2 separate regions of the Homo sapiens genome follow, and region 1 is linked to region 2. Evidence: fine-mapped expression QTL. A gene starts in region 2. The other region holds a variant in brackets. All regions are shown on one strand. Distances are between the middles of the regions.

Region 1 (8,544 bases), 35 kb after region 2:
GTAGCGACAGGGTTTCACCATGTTGGCCAGACTGGTCTCAAACTCCTCACCTCAGGTGATCCACCCATGCACGCCTGTAGTCCCAGCTACTTGGGAGGCCTAGGCACGAGAATCACTTGAACTGGGGAGGTAGAGGTTGCATGAGCCGAGATTGTGCCACTGCACTCCAGCCTGGGTGACAGAGCAAGACTCTTTCTCAAAAAATAATAATAATAATAATTAGCCAAGTGTGGTGGCGCATGCTAGTAGTCCCAGCTAATTGGGACTGAGGCAGGAGGAACGCTTGAGCCCAGGAATTTGAGGCAGCTGCTGAGCTATGATCATACCACTGCACTCCAGTCTGGGTGACAGAGTAAGACCCTGTCTCTTTAACAACAAAAAGACAGATTGTATTCTGCCATTCAAATTTTGAAATGGGCCAGGTGCAGCAGTTCATGCCCATAATCCCAGCACTTTGGGAGGCCAAAGCAGGCAGATCACTTGAGCCCAGGAATTGGAGACCAGCCTGGGCAACATGGTGAAACCATATCTCTACAAAAAATACAATAATTAGCGGGGAGTGGTGGCACATGCCTGTGGTCCCAGCTGTTCAGGAGGCTGAAGCAGGAGGATTGCTTGAGCCCAGGCTGTCGAGGGTGCAGTGAGCTGTGATCGCACCATTGCACTCCAGCCTGGGTGACAGAGCAAGAACTTACCTCACAAAAAAAAAAAAAAGAAAAAAAAGTTGAAATGGCAAGTGGGAGTACCCAATCTCATGTTCTGCCATGGAGATTTATAGACTAAAATGCCGAGACTCTGTATCATGTATTAGATCTCCTTTGAGGAAAGCATCTAATGAGAGATGATACTCTCATAGCGACAGGGAGATGTCCTTGTTGGTCTTATGATGGTCATCCCAAGCAGCAGGTTTCAGAGATCAAGAATGACATGTATGTAAGGAATGGTACTGACTCACTCCAAGTCCCATAGTAACTGACAATAGCCTCCCTTTTTTTGAGTCAGTGGTTTTCAGTATTTTTTTTCTTTTTGGCAGCAAAACTCTCTTCCACTTGTAATATAGTACTCTGATATATAAAATAGAATCAAGCAGAATTGCCCTGGACATGGGGAAGCTCAGACTTCCTGGCTTCCCTTTCAACCCCTGCAATGGCCTCTGAGCAGAATCCTGGGATTCTTGGGAACCATTTGAAAACTGCTGTTGTAGGTCAGCCTTTCTCAACCAGGGTTCCCCATCTTAAACATAGAGAGCTAAATAAACTATTTTCTCAGATACTCTAATGATGGGTCATGACTGATATCATTCTAGATGTCTACGAGAGAAGTTAATTCATTGCACACGGTGGCTGCTTTGGGGCAGTGGGACTTAATTCTCTTGTGGAACCCCAGTTGAGAAAGGCTTAGATGAATGCCAATCTTAGTGTACCAGAGTATGCCATGGAATCAGGCCAGGATGAGCTCAGGTACTTAGAGATTGGTTCCAAACATTTCTTTTAGGAGAGCTGTCTAACAAAGTGTACCCCTTCCTTTTCAGGAAGAATATGAAGACTCAAGTGGGAATGTTGTGAATAAGAAGACATACGAGGATCTGAAAAGACAAGGACTGCTCTAGTGTTCAGGGATGTAGCTCAGCTTTTGGGCTAGCCCAGGCTTCCCTAAGATCTGCTTTTTCTATTTCTCCCAACCAAATCCTCTTAAAGACCCTTTGCTATGTAGTCTCATGGTCTAGCATGCATCTTGTAGAAACAAGGCATGCTGGCAGATTGCAGGGTTGAGATGTGTTTTATCTGTTTTATATTTTAAAAGATTCTGCCAGAAAATAAAACCAGACCTTGTTCTAAAGCCCAGGGTTATGGACCAACTCAGTGCTTCAGGTCTTAACGCCTCCATACCTCTTCCTCACCAACTTTACTAGTAGCTGAGATTTAATGGGCACCTATTATGCTACATATCATGTTAGGTAAATCTGACCTGACCTCTTTCCCCACCCTCCTTTGTTGCTGCTTCCCTGAATGAGTATTACCCCAGGATGAGGTCTGCCATCAGCTTAGTTAGCCATTGATGCAAATACTAGGGAAAGACTAGGAGGATGAGCCAGGGTTGCTACTAAGGACTAAGTGTCGCACCAAGGTTTGCCTTTTGTATTTGCATAAAGAAAGGAGTTGGAGCTGGGTGCAGTGGCTTGTGCCTGTAGTCCCAGCTACTTGGGAGGCTGAGGCAGGAGGGTTGCTTGAGACTAGCCTAGGTAACATAGTGAGACCCTGTCTCATTAAAAAAAAAAAAAAGGCATGGTGGCACGCACTGTAGTCCCAGCTACTCAGGAGACTGAGGCTAGAAGATCCTTTGAACCTAGGAGTTTGAGACCAGCCTGGGCGATATAGTGAGGCCCCATCTCAAAAAAAAAAAAAGGGGGGGGGGGGGGAGTTGGGCTGTGTTGGAATGGGCCTGCAGCCCAACAAACAAGGGAACTAGGACCGACAGTGACTTCACCAGCTTGCTAGGTCAGAATGAGAGACTGGTGGGTCTGTCTACCTGTTTCTTCTACAAGATCCCTATTTGACTGTAAAAGTAGCTAATACTCACATGTTCTCCAATCCCAGGTAGCCATGGTAGAGTTGGGTAGAGTTGAGCAGCTGCCCCAGGATCCAAATGTGGTGTCTGAAATGGAAAGAACTAAGGCAACCAGGAAGGCACTGATCTGCCTTATAAGCACAGTCATCTGAAAGTCAGGCCTGCTGCAGGACAGGATCCCCCAGAGACCCCATTTGCCTCTCAACACTCAGACCTTCAACTGTTTTTTAATAAATCTACTTTTTAAAAAAATGTTAATCTTTTTCTTTATATTACACATTTATATCTTATTTTTCTAAAAACCTACCAAGAACCAGTGCCGCACTCATCCCATGCAGAGGCAGGCTGGCTAATATATCTACTTTTAAAAATTCCAACTCAGGCCATGCGCAGTAGCTGATGCCTGTAATCCAAACACTTTGGGAGGCCGAGGGCAGCAAATTACTTGAGGTCAGGAGTTGGAGACCAGCCTGGCCAACATGGCGAAACCCTGTCTCTACTAAAAATACAAAAATTAGCCAGGCGTGATGGCATGCACCTGTAGTCCCAGGTACTCAGGAGACTGAGGCAGGAGGATCACTTGAACCCAGGAGGCGAAGGTTGCCATGAGCCGAGATCACGCCACTGCACTCCAGCCTGGGTGACAGCGAGACTCCGTCTCAAAAAAAAAAAAAAAAAAATCCCAACTTGAATTAGCCTTCTGCCTCACACCAATCTTTTGCCCTGGTTATTTCCATGGCAGTAAAGTTTCACCACCCCCACCCCAGTGGCACTGCACTCTAGGTTGGTATTTTCCTTCCTAGTTCAGCCCATCCCTGTGCAACTCATTCCCTTGTGCCTTCACTCCTTCATTTAAGACTCCAGGTCGGGTGCAGTGGCTCATGCCTGTAATCCCAGCACTTTGGGAGGCCGAGGCAGGCGGATCACTTGAGGTCGGGAGTTCAAGACCAGCCTGACCAACATAGAGAAACCCTGTCTCTACTAAAAATACAAAATTAGCCAGGCGTGGTGGCACATGCCTGCGATCCCAGCTACTTGGGAGGCTGAGGCAGGAGAATCACTTGAACCTGGGAGGCGGAGGTTGCAGTGAGCCGAGATCGCGCCATTGCACTCCAGCCTGGGCAACAAGAGTGAAACTCTGTCTCAAAAAAATAAGACTCCAGTTGGACAGCCTCTCCAGGGCCTGAGCTGAAGCAGAGTGAGTGAATAATTAAACCTAATTGAGCCAACTGGAAACACTGATTAGTGGAAACTGGCCCAAAGTGCAAGGAGACATTGCCATTTGAGAAGAGAGTTAAAGCGTTGGAATGGGAAATGTGGGGAGAAGACGGCCCTTCAGACTGCTCGTCAGAACAGGGGCTGCATTGGGCTACCAAGGAATGCACCTGCTACTTTCCAGCTGTTGGAGTCCTCAAAACCCTGTCTTGAGGCTACCTGGGACTCCAGGGTTAATAGGTTCTCCCTCTACAGTGTGGAGAGGAAGTGGGACCAGGTCCTAAGGAGTCCTGCCATCCCCTTGCCCAGTAACTGCAGTCAGTGTGCGAACTCTGTGCCAGAACAACCTTGGAGGGAACCTCGGGCTTACCTGTCACAGCAAAGGCTTGTTCATTTGTTACCTTCATTCATTCAGGGTTTTTTTAGTGCCTTCCATGTGCCAGGCACAGCTAGATCAAACCTTGAAAACTAAAGCGGAGGTGAGACAGTGAGGGCAGAAGCCAGAGGTGAAGAAGCTCAGCAGCAGCCTCTGGGCACGCAGGAAGAGCCATATGGCCAGCTCCATCCAGCTGCAAGGGGCACAGCTGTTTTCTGAGGTGAAGGCAAACCACATCAGAATTGGTTCTCAGAGGTGATCCTTCAGGTTTGGACTCCATAGGGTCAACCAAAGGAAGAGAATTTCAATTGACCACCTGCCTCAGCCTCCCAAAGTGCTGGGATTTCAGTCATGAGCCACTGTGCCCAGCCAAGAATCTTTCTTAGACATGGAGTCGGAACCTTTGCCAATGCACTTACTGCTGGGAACAGTTAATTCAATTAGCTCTTCATGGAGGAAAGCTGCAGGGAGCATTTAGGGAGTTGTTCCTGGGATTGACCCTCAGATTGGTGCTGCTAAACCCAGAGGCTGCACCTGGAATGAGCCCTCCCAGGAGGAGTCTTTACTCTCTACTTCTCAGATGAAAGTGAAGAAATCTGTCTCTGGCTTCAACCAGGTATCCCTTTCTTCTCCATTTTCTGTCCATTTCCCTCCCTGGGGTCAACTTGTGCTGGA[G/A]GGCTCTGTGAAGGGAGCACCCTAAAGGTAACCAATGTGTTGGGGAAGTGAAGTTGTGAGATATTTCTCTCCCTCTGCATTAAAAAAAAAAAAAATCCTTGGGATGATAGCAACCTTTCTCCTCATCCTTCAGGTCCTACTGTCAGCCTCAGCTCAGAGTTCTCAGGGTGGGAATGAACCTGTGACCCTCTCCACCCTCATCCAGAAGAGTCCTCCCATTACAGGTCCACCCTGGGAGGACACTGGTCTCCTCTCCCTCTGATCTCTTCTGAGAGCCCTCTCCACCTGCCAGGTTTCCGATCCAGACAAATAAGGCACCTCCCAGTGGGATGCTGGGACAGCGGTCTTTTGATCTGCTCAAGTGGCTTTATTTTCTCCCTCCAACTACAGTCTGGGCAGCAGCTATGCTTTCTTCTTTTCTGTGGTCCCTGTGTGTCCCTGGTGGCAGCAACATGAGAGGCAAATCCCAGAGGTGACAAGTGATTGGAGGGGAGGAGAAAGGGCAGCTTCCAGTTTCCAGGGGCGGCAGCTGTAGCCTCCCTGCCTTGTGCATGCACACTCACAGCCCTCTGCACCTTCAAGTGTGCAGGTAGGTCTATAGCTGGGATAGGGTGGGGCACAGAGAATATTGAGAATATGCTCTAGCCATGGAGGGGCACACAGACTAAAGGAGATGGACAAGAAGCCTGGATTAATACAGCCTAGGAGGTACCCATCTATCTTTGCCCAGCCTTCTGATTCTGCTCAGTGTCTGTCCACCTGCCCCATCATATTCCTGAGATGTCCCTCCAGCCTCAACTGTGCAAAGTAAGGAGGAGGAAAGGGGCTTCTGTGGGAAGCCTGGGCTCTTCACAAAGCTTCAGGGACCTGGGTAGAACCTTTGAGCCCTTTGAACCTTTGGCCTTTGGAAACCGAAGTCCCCTTGGAGAGGGGCTGACTGTGTAAAAACTTCATTTGGCCGGGCGCGGTGACTCACACCTGTAATCCAAACACTATGGGAGGCCAGGCACGGTGGCTCACACCTGTCATCCAAACACTATGGGAGGCCAAGGCAGGCAGATCATGAGGTCAGGAGATCAAGACCTTTCTGGCCAACATGGTGAAACCCCATCTCTACTAAAAATACAAAAATTAGTCGGGCATGGCAGCACGCACCTGTAGTCCCAGCTACCCGGGAGGCTGAGGCAGGAGAATTGCTTGAACCCGGGAGGCAGAGGCTACAGTGAGCCGAGATCGCACCACTGCACTCCAGCCTGGGCGACAGAGTGAGACTCTGTCTCGCTCTGTCACTTTTTTTTTTTTTTTGTAAGACGGAGTCTCGCTCTGTCGCCCAGGCTGGAGTGCAGTGGTGCAATCTCGGCTCAGGGCAGCCTCTGCCTCCCGGGTTCAAGCAATTCTCCTGCCTCAGCCTCCCGAGTAGTTGGGACTACAGGTGTGCGCTGCCACACCTGGCTAATTTTTTCATGTTTTTGGTAGAGACGGGGTTCCACCATATGGGCCAGGCTGGCCTTGAACTCCTGACCTCATGATCCACCTGCCTTGGCCTCTCAAAGTGCTGAGATTACAGGTGTGAGCCACCGTGCCCGGCCCCAAAAACTTTTTTTTTAACAAGGTCTCACTGTTACCCAGGCTAGAGTGCAGTGGCATGATCATAGCTCACTGCAGCCTCCCAACTCTCAGGCTCAAGTGACCTCCCCACCTCAGCCTCCCAAGTAGCTAGGACTACAGATGCACACCTCCATGCCCAGCTAATTTTTTGTAGAGAAGGGAATCTCACTATCTTGCCCAGGCTGGTCTTGAAATTCTGGCCTGAAGCAGTTCTCCTGCCCCAGCCTCCTGAGTCACTGGGATTATAGGTGTGAGCCACCATGCCCAGCAAGAGAACTGTTTCTTGAGTGTAGTGTTTGTTGGTGGGGGGGACGGATGGGCAACAGAGAGGCTGACACCATCAGAAGGGCCCAACCCAGGAGTCCTTGCTGCACACTCTCCTGTGTATCGCATCACCCTGGCTGCTGTCACTTGAGAGACAAGTCTGAGTGCTGATGGAGGATTACATCCATGAGGGCAGGGAAACAGATGCCCCATTAGCATTGGGAATGGTAGGGTCTGGGTTGTGCTCAGCTTCCAGGGCTGGGCGAGAAGATAGGAATAATGCCCCACTCTCATCTCTAGCAGTTTCCTACCTTGTATGGAAAAACCTAAACCCAGGCTTAGCAGACCTTTCTAGGTGTGGCCCCTTAGTGTTGCAGGGGGCAGAGTCTGGGATCCAGGAACCCAAAGTCTGAGAGCTACCTCCTATCTTTGGCTCAGCACTCATTTAGGGACAGGCTGGGGTCTGAATCCTGAAGAACACTTGGACAAAGTGAGTCTGGACTTTTGACCCTCTGTGGCCTAGGGTTTTCCTGCCCTGGGTTCTGAGGAAGCCCATGACTCCCACCTTCCCACACCCGGGCACCTTCTGACGTTGGCAGCAAATGAGACCAGATCAGAGTCACTGGGTATGTATTTCCTGTCACTGCACCTGCTCCAGTTCTGCCTCCCCTCAGGCTGGGATGCTGCTGTTGCCATGCCAGTGACAAAATGTGTCTCGGGGGGCTGTTACTGGGATGCAGGCCCCTTTGTGCCTGCCCCAGTGTCACTCTGACAGTATGACTTGCAGGAAGCGAAAGCTGAGCCCCTGAGACCTCTTATTCCCTAAAGGTTGACCCACCCCCACCCTAGTTCCCCAGCCTCAATTTATTCATCTGCATAGTACAGTAATGGAAATTTTGCTTGTAGGTTTCCTCAGCTGGCCAGAACTGGTCCTTCCCTCTCTCTGGCTCCTGCAGCACCTCAGTTGAAGATGTATGTGGCCAATGGTAGCCACAGAGCTGCTTTGCTCAGAGGTAGCTGTCCTCAGCCCAGGGATCCTGGCCTTTCCTGGACCATGACTACTGCTGGACCCTGGGACTGCCCCTACTTTTCCCTAAGTTCATGACCTCTTCCACTTAACTGCTGCATGACCTTTCTTTGACCTATGACCTTTGAGCTGGTTATGGCCTTGAACTCCTGACCTCATGATTCACCTGCCTCAGCCTCTGCAGTGGCTCCCTCTCTCCTTTTCCTCCTATCAGTCCTCCTGCTGGCCTTACTGGTAGCCCAGAACCTGGCAAGCAGTCAGTTGACCCCTGCTCCTGTCCAGGTAAGCAGCATATGAGGGAGGGGACAGCCTTCCTAATGCCTTCAGCCCCAGGCGTGTGACCACAGTGGTCAAACCTTTCCGCAGATATGCCACAACTTCCACTGCCTCGGAGAGATGTGCTACCAGGAGGAAAAGTTCTCCAACCAGACCACAGAGTGTTAGCCCGGGCAGCACCACTGCGAGGTGTGGGGCTGGGGCTGTGAGGGACCCAAGCCAGGGTACTTCTCAGAGGTGAAGGAGAGTGGAGGGAGGCCATTGGAAGGGGGATTGACATTCAGGTACAGTAAGGTGCAGGAACAGATCCTGAAGCGGGAGGGAGAGGAGTCAGTATCTGGGATGCTGGGAACGTGGAGCTATGGCCCAGGCCTGGCTGTGCCCCCATCCTCCTGGACATGCCTGCATTCTCTCTACCCAGCTGATTCAACTCAACGCTTCCCACTACATGGCCTGGTGCAGCTTCAGCTGTGAAGGGGGAAATGAAACCGGTCCTAGCCCTTGTCTGCTGTCCAATAGCTCAGCCCCCAGCCCA
Region 2 (8,544 bases):
GGTGGTAAGGCGGTCCACCCACCTAACAGGAAGTGAGAGATGTGCAGCTACAAAATTGTTTGATTTATTTCAATACAAACATTTTTCAGACTTAACATCTTAGAAACCCAGACATATAATCAAGGCCAGGCGCAGTGGCTCACGCCTGTCATCCCAGCACTTTGGGAGGCCGAGGCGGGTGGATCACCTGAGGTCAGGAGTTTGAGACCAGCCTGGACAACATGGTGAAGCCTCGCCTCTACTAAAAATACAAAAATTAGCTGGGTGTGGTGGCAGGCATCTGTAATCCCAGCTACTCCGGAGGTTGAGGCAGGAGAATTACTTGAATCCGGAGATGGAAGTTGCAGTGAGCCGAGATAGCACCACTGCAGTCCAGCCTGGGGGACAAGAGCAAAACTCCGTCTTAAAAAAAAAGAAACCCAGACATATAATCAAAGGTGTGTCATTGTTTAATTGACAATTTTTTCTCTCTTCCTTAGTAAAGCATAAAATAATACTGAGTTTTACATTTGATGGCATCTCGTATTCAAGAAATACAGTAGCTCTCCAAGTTTATACCCCCCAAAAAACAAAACAAAACAAAAAACATTTGCTGAGTCTCCCCACTCCCTGAATGGAGATTTCTACTTTACCTCTTTCCTAATGTCCCAGGAAAAGCCCCAGATGAGTTGTGACTGGGTCCTTTCCCTAAGCTTGGCAGTCCTGCTTAAATTTCCGATATACAAATAAGATCCCCATAACACCCTCATGAGTGGGCAAAACACAGGTCACTATTTCCATTTTATATTTATTTATTTATTGAGACAGAGTCTCACTCTATCGCCAGGCTGGAGTGCAGTGGCGCGATCTCGGCTCACTACAACCTCCACCTGCCGGGTTCAAGTGATTCTCCTGCCTCAGCCTCTCAAGTAGCTGGGACTACAGGCGTGCGCCACCATGCCCAGCTAATTTTGTTGTATTTTTAGTAGAGACAGGGGTTTCACCATGTTGGCCAGGATGGTCTTGATCTCTTGACCTCGTGATCTGCCGCCTCGGCCTCCCAAAGTGCTGGGATTACAGGCGTGAGCCACCATGCCCAGCCTCCGTTTTTTCAAACTTTTTTTTTCTTTTTTGAGACAGGGTGTCACCCAGGCTTGAAGATTATAGCTCACTGTAACCTCAAACCCCTGGGCTCAAGTGATCCTCCCGCCTCAGCCTCCCAGGTAGCTGGGAGTACGGGCAAATGCCAGCAAGCCCAGCTAATTTTCTTATTTTTTGTAGAGATGAGGTCTCGCTATGTTGCCCAGACTGTTCTAGAACTCCTGGCTTTAAGCGAAATTCCCAGCTTGGCCTCCCAAAGTGCTGGGATTACAGGCGTGAGCCACTGCACCCAGCCTGCTTTCAAACTTTTAAAAACAAAAAGTAATGCATGTTTACTGTAGAAAAATTGGGCTGGGTGCGGTGGCTCACGCCTATAATCCCAGCACTTTGGGAGGCCAAGGCAGGAGGATTGCTTGAGCTCAGGAGTTGCAGACAAGCCTGGGCACCACTGTGAGACCTCATCTCTAGTAAAAATTTTTAAAAAATTACAGCGGGTCTGGTGGCTCATGCCTATAATCCCAGCATTTTGGGAGGCCAAGGCAGGAAGATCGCTTGAGTCCAGGAGTTTGAGACCAGCCTGGGCAACACGGCAAAAAACCCCATCTCTACAAAAAATACAAAAATTAGCAGGGTGTAGTGGCGCACATCTATAGTCCCAGCTACTCAGGAGGCTGAAGTGGGAGGATAGCTTTAGCCCAGGAGGTCGAGGCTGCAGTGAGCCAAGATTGTGCCACTGTACTCCAGCTTGGCAAGACCCTGTCTCAAAAAAAAAAGAAAAACCTTGGCTTGGTGTGGTAGCTCATGCCTGTAATTCCAGCATTTTGGGAGGCCAAGGTGGGCGGATCACCCTGAGGGCAGGAGTTCAAGACCAGCCTGGCCAACATAGCAAAACCCCATCTCTGCTAAAAATACAAAAATTAGCTGGGCATGGTGCCACGCACCTGTAATCCCAGCTACTAGGGAGACTGAGGCAGAATTGCTTGAACCCAGGAGGTAGAGGTTGCAGTGAGCCAAGATCGTGCCACTGCACTCCAGCTTGGATGACACAGAAAGACCCTGTCTCAAAAAAAAACAAAAAACAAAAAACCTCGCAGTTTTTTGGTGTGCGGTGGCTCACACCTGTAATCCCAGCATTTTGGGAGGCCAAGGCAGGCAGATCACCCGGAGGTCAGGAGTTCAGGACCAGCCTGGCCAACATAGTGAAAGCCCGTCTCTACTAAAAATACAAAAACTAGCCAGGTGTGGTGGCAGTCACCTGTAATCCCAGCTACTCAGGAGGCTGAGGCAGGAGAATCGCTTGAACACAGGAGGTAGAGGTTGCCGTGAGCTGAGATCGCGCCACTGCACTCCAGCCTGGCGACAGAGCGAGACTCCCAAAACAAAACTTTAAATGTGGCTTTTGTTGCGTGGGAAAAAAATAAAAAATTAACCAGGGTGGTGGCACCCACCTGTGGGGGCCACAGGGGTGGAGGCTGCAGTGAGCCATGATTATGCCACTGCACTCCAGCCTGGGGCAACAGAGAGAGACCCTATCAAAAAAAAAAAGAAAAAGAAAAAAAAGAAAAAAGTGAACAATAGGTAAATTACTAATAATGTGATGCATTATGTCCTCCTCGTTCTTTTTTGTTAAACATAAATGTGCACATATGTATTTTCAGTTTTAAATTAATTTTTAAATTGAAAAAGTATGTTTAAGAATAACTTTTTATGCTGTGCTTGGGGTGTATACAAAGAAAAATCTCCCATATCAGATCTCCAAGGCTGTCTGCTCAGGAACAACCACTGTTTACTGTTACTTGGATATCCTTACAGAAATAATCTCTTTGCACATCTATTTTTATACACACTTGTGCATCTAGCTTTTTTCAGTTTGTGTGGCCATCTCTCCATATGAGTTCATACAGAGTTTTTAACAGTTTTATTGAAGTGTAATTTATATACCATAAAATTCACCCATTTTTAACAGTACAAAGCAATTAATTTTAATAAAATGAATAGAGTTATGCAACTATCACCACAATCCAATTTTAGAACATTTCTACCCATCCAAAATGGATTCCTTGTGCGCATTTGTAATCACTTCCAATCTCACCTGCGGTCACAAGCAACCACTCATATTTCTGCCTCCATAGATTTGCCTTTGTTAACTCAATTGTAGCCTAAAGCTGCCTCCTTACATATTTTAAATTTAGCCTAAAGGTTTCTCTGTACATTGTGAACTATAACCTAAATGGAGTTGTAAACAGACCATAGCCTACTCTTTGCCAATCACCGAGTTTTGGCCAATCAAACATGGCAAACTATGCAAACCGTGTTCAAATAAGGCAAAGACCAAGCTGTAATAACCGGTGTTTTTTTTTTTTTTTCTTTTTGCAGGGGCCATGCTAATCTTCTCTGTATGGTTCCAATTTTAGTATATGTGCTGCCATAGCAAGCACCAGTGTTTTTCTTTTAACACCGTTCTGGACGTTTTATCTGGACATACACTGTTGTTTTTCTGTCTAGCTTCTTTCACTTAGCATGATGCTTTCATGGTTCATCATTGTAGTATTCATTTATTGCAGAATAATGTTCCATTGTACTGTATAGATATACCACACTTTATCCATTTGCCAGTTAATGGACTCTTGGGCTGCATCCAGTTTTTGTCTATTATGAATAATGCCGCTGTGAACATATGAACACATGGACATGTTTGCATTTCTCTACCTACAAGTGGAGATATATAGACAGAATTTTTTTTAAGGCTGTATGTCATTTCACAGCTGGTCTTCCACTGCTTGGATGCACAGTATTTTATTTTATTTTATTTTACTTTTTTTTGAGACGGAGTCTCTCTCTGTCGCCCAAGCTGGAATGCAGTGGCATGATCTCAGCTCACTGCAACCTCTGCCTCCTGGGTTCAAGTGATTCTCCTGCCTCAGCCTCCCGAGTAGCTGTGACTACAGGCGCGCGCCACCATGCCCGGCTAATTTTTTGCAGTTTTAGTAGAGACGGGGTTTCACCGTGTTAGACAGGATGGTCTCAATCTCCTGATCTCGTTGGATGCACAGTATTTTATTTAACATATTCGCTGCCGATAGACAAGTCGTTTCTACACGTGAATTTCTTTTTTTTTTTTTTTTTTGAGACTGAGTCTCATTCTGTCGCCCAGGCTGGAGTGCAGTGGCACGATCTCAGCTGACGGCAACCTCTGCTTCCCGGGTTCAAGCGATTCTCCTGCCTCAGCCTCCGGAGTAGCTGGGACTACAGGCGCCTGCCATCACGCCCGGCTAATTTTTGTTTGTTTGTTTTTAGTAGAGACGGGGTTTCACCATGTTAGCCAGCCTGGTCGTCTCGAACCTCTGACCTCAAGTGATCCGCCCGCCTCGGCCTCCCAAAGTGTTGGGATTACAGGCGTGAGCTACCGCGCCCGGCCTCACATGTGAATTTTTTTAAAAACACCACCAGCAAAACCCCACTATTCCCATTTTCCTGAGAAAGACGCTGAGGTCCAGAGAAAGAGAAAACGTTCTCATAATTTATGCTGAAAGCTGCGTCCTCAAGTTCCGGTTTCCCAACTCCCATCCGCACTCCAACTGCTCGCGCAGTCCACACAGGATACCTGCCCGCCAAGCCGGCCCCAGCAAGCCGCAGGAAGCCGTCCGCTGAACCTCAGGTTCTTGGGTTTTCCTATGCCCCCTGGAGGCATCTGCGAACCTCTCGGCATCGCTCCACCACACCTCCCACCAGCAGGTGGCACTGTTGCCATCTCCATAACATGGACTGGCCTTCCTTGTGGTGCTCCTGTTTTCTTAAGTCCCGGGGCACTTCCGGCACTCGCGGAACTTTGGTGCAGCCTGATGCGCAACGTGGGGACTCAGGCGCGCTGGGCGGCAGGAGTTGCTTCCGGCCGTGTTGGTGGTCTGAATTGAGAAGCCGCGACTAAGGGAAGATGGAGACAATACTGGAGCAGCAGCGGCGCTATCATGAGGAGAAGGAACGGCTCATGGACGTCATGGCTAAAGAGATGCTCACCAAGAAGTCCACGGTGAGTGGGGCCTGAGCAGAGGCTGCGGCAGGAGCACGAGCCTCTATCCCGTGTTTGACCTCTGAGAGCTTGCTTTGGCCCTCAGAACCTCCCTGCCTTCCTCCGGGCTCCCTCTCCGAGCTCCGGTCTTGGTAACCTCCTCCCGGGGTCCGGAGCCCCAGAGGCCTTTCTGCCTCAGCTGGTAAAAGCTGAGCGGGTAAGCTCCGCCCTCGGGCGGCCTTTTCTACTCCAGAACGCAAACTAACGGCGTTTGTGTCACCGTTTGTTTTTTCAGCTCCGGGACCAGATCAATTCTGATCACCGCACTCGGGCCATGCAAGATGTGAGTGCCCAGCTGTCTGCCTCTCTTTGGGTTGGCGAGGGCGGGAAAAGAGAGGGGAAGTGAAGTGCGGTGTCTCAGCATGAGTCCCTGGCCAAAGGTAACCGGATTGGCCAGTCGCGGGCTCTCTGCCTGGACAGATGTCCACAGGCTGCCGAACGTGAGGGTGCTTCCTCAGTTCTCTGAATGGGGAACTCTTGGGCATTCTTCATTAATCAGAAAGGTGCCCTTTTTTTTTTTCTTCTTCTTCTTCTTTTGGACGGAGTCTCGCTCTGTTGCCTAGGCTGGAGTGCAGTGGCGCGGTCTCGGCTCACTGCAACCTCCGCCTCCTGGGTTCAAGCGATTCTCCTGCCTCAGCCTCCGGAGTAGTTGGGACTACAGGCGCTCGCCACCACGCTCAGCTAATTTTTGTATTTTTAGTAGAGACGGAGTTTCTACTAAACATGTTGGTCAGGCTGGTCTCGAACTCCTGACCTCGTGATCCACCTACCTCGGCCTCCCAAAGTGCTGAGATTACAGGCTTGAGCCACCGCGGCCGGCTTACACGTGCCCATTCTTACAGCATCCTGTATCCCTTGGATGTGCAAACAATAGTTATGAAGAGTCCATGACTCAGGTGCATAGCTACAATCCTTCCCTTAAATGAAAAAAAAAATATATATATATATATACACACACACACACACACACACAACACACCCCGTATGTTAGTGTTTTTCTCCCAGGATACTACTTTAAAGCGTTTTGGACTACTAAACTGCATTTGTCTGGTAATAGTTCAGTTTATTAAAAGAAAAACAAGATGCTATTTAAACTGGGTGATGAATAAATGGAGGTTCATTTTACTACGTTCCTTACTCTTGTGTATGTTTGAAACCTGTTTAAAAAGGAATAAAAGACCTACTTGGACCTTCTGATTTGCAGGAGATTATCAGATTACAAGCCCTCAGCCCCAAAATACTCTGAAAACCAAGGATTTTCTTTTTTTCCCCTTGGGTGATTATTTGGTGTCAAAATCTGACCTGATCTCACTTGACAGTAAAACCTGGCCCGAACCTGTGATAGGCTTTTTATGGTCTTTAATTTATCCCACTTGGTAAATAAGGTATGAGGTTTACTGCAGAACTGTGTGCTCCAGATTCCACTAGGGATGTTACATAATATATGATACCTCTTTTGAACTTAAACATTCCAAATTCTGAAACAAATCTGGTCCCAAAAGTTTTGGAGGAGGGACTATGTACCTGTACCATCCTGAATTAGTATACTTTGACTACAAAGGAAGCCTATGTAATGTTTATTTAGCCTGCCTACTCCTCAGTCAAGCGTTTTGAAATAGTGAATATCATCTTTATCTTTGAGGATGTTAGGTGGGAACTAGTGTTTGGCCAAAGAGGGTGAGTCTGTTACAGGGGAAGTTAGGCATCGGTGGTATGTAAAGATAGGAGCCACCCCTTAAATGTATCATTTAGGTAATCTTCCAATCGACCTGCTTAAAAAACTAAACAGGAATCAAGGCTGTTAAAGGGCTATTAAAAAACTAACCAGGAATCAGGGCTGTTAAAGGTACTAGGAAGCACAGAACTGTTAAGACTATCTCATATCCATGTCTCTTGAGGTTGCCCTGGGCTTTGACTGGAGAACCCTTGTTGTTTGCTTAGCTCTACAGTTGTGCAAATTGCATCATTCTGATGGTTTTGTATTTGCCTTTCAGAGGTATATGGAGGTCAGTGGGAACCTGAGGGATTTGTATGATGATAAGGATGGGTAAGTGACAGTCACAGCTAATCCAGGAGTTAGTGCTTCTGAGGAGCCATGGTTAGAGGACTGACTTTGTGCTCTATCTTCTTTGAAATTTTCCTGAAATTGCAGATTACGAAAGGAGGAGCTCAATGCCATTTCAGGACCCAATGAGTTTGCTGAATTCTATAATAGACTCAAGCAAATAAAGGAATTCCACCGGAAGCACCCAAATGAGGTATGTCCTCAGAAAAGTATTTTCTCCAGACCTATCCTTAAAGCATACTAAAGGAAAGGTATAAAGGAAACTGGACATGTGCTATTCAAATGCACTTCAAGAAAGAACTTGCCATTTAGCTGCAAGGACCATAGTTAGCTGACATCCTACAATACAGTGTTTTCAGTATCTCCCTCAGCTTTTAAGCCAAGGCCGGCTGGGCACGGTGGCTCACGCCTGTAATCCCAGCACTTTGGGAGGCTGAGGTGGGTGGATCACCTGAGGTCAGGAGTTCAAGACCAGCCTGGCCAACATAGTGAAACTCAACCTCTACTAAAAATACAAAAATTAGCCAGGCATGGTGGCATGTGCCTGTAATCCCAACTACTCAGGAGGCTGAGGCAAGAGAATCACTTGAACCTGGGAGGTGGAGGTTGCAGTGAGCCGAGATTGCGCCATTGCACTCCATCCTGGGGGACAAGAGTGAGACTTTGTCTCAAAAAAAAGAAGTCAAGGCCACATTTTGTGGGCAGCTCCCAGCCAGTGACTGAGCACAGTATGGGTACTAGGGCCCAGCAATTTGGTCCACTCTGAGACTCCTCTGATGAATAATCTTTGCTCCATGGCTCCCCGTTGGGTTGGTCAAGATTTTGTCCAATCTGCATTGTGGTCTAGGCTATCCTGTCCTAATCCTACTTTCTCTTCCTTTTTATCTTTCACAGAAATTACTCTCCCCAATAAATTGTGTTCCTAACTCTGTCTTTTTTTTTTTTTTTTTTTTTGAGATGGAGTCTCGCTCTGTTGCCCAGGCTGGAGTGCAGTGGCATGATCTCGGCTCACTGCAAGCTCCACCTCCCGAGTTCATGCCATTCTCCTTCCTCAGCCTCCTGAGTAGCTGGGACTACAGGTGCCTGCCACCACGCCTGGCTAATTTTATGTATTTTTTAGTTGAGACAGGGTTTCACCATGTTAGCCAGGATAGTCTCTATCTCCTGACCTTGTGATCCGCCCACCTCGGCCTCCCAAAGTGCTGGGATTACAGGCATGAGCCACCGCGCCCGGCCCTCATATGCCCTGGAGCTCACTTATAATAAGGTAAAGAGAAAAAGGGCCTGGGAAGGCTTCCATCAGAAAGGTCACATGACCACTCCAGGTGGT

Evidence for each region.
Region 1: its variant is fine-mapped to the expression of SF3A3 in whole blood (TOPMed, PIP above 0.99).

What each region holds. Positions count from the first base shown.
Region 1 is chr1:37,951,251-37,959,794 of GRCh38, reverse strand. It overlaps SF3A3 (splicing factor 3a subunit 3), which reads left to right. Exons shown (of 17, transcript NM_006802.4): 17 at 1,532-2,820. The coding sequence ends at 1,609. Among named protein-coding and RNA genes, the nearest start is that of INPP5B, 8.5 kb to the right of the region's middle. The variant G/A (reference allele first, on the strand shown) is at 4,835.
Region 2 is chr1:37,986,436-37,994,979 of GRCh38, reverse strand. It overlaps SF3A3 (splicing factor 3a subunit 3), which reads left to right and starts at 4,958. Exons shown (of 17, transcript NM_006802.4): 1 at 4,958-5,110; 2 at 5,385-5,432; 3 at 7,144-7,196; 4 at 7,302-7,407. The coding sequence starts at 5,015. It also overlaps the pseudogene RNU6-510P. RefSeq lists enhancers at 3,800-4,345, 4,737-4,906, 5,607-5,706.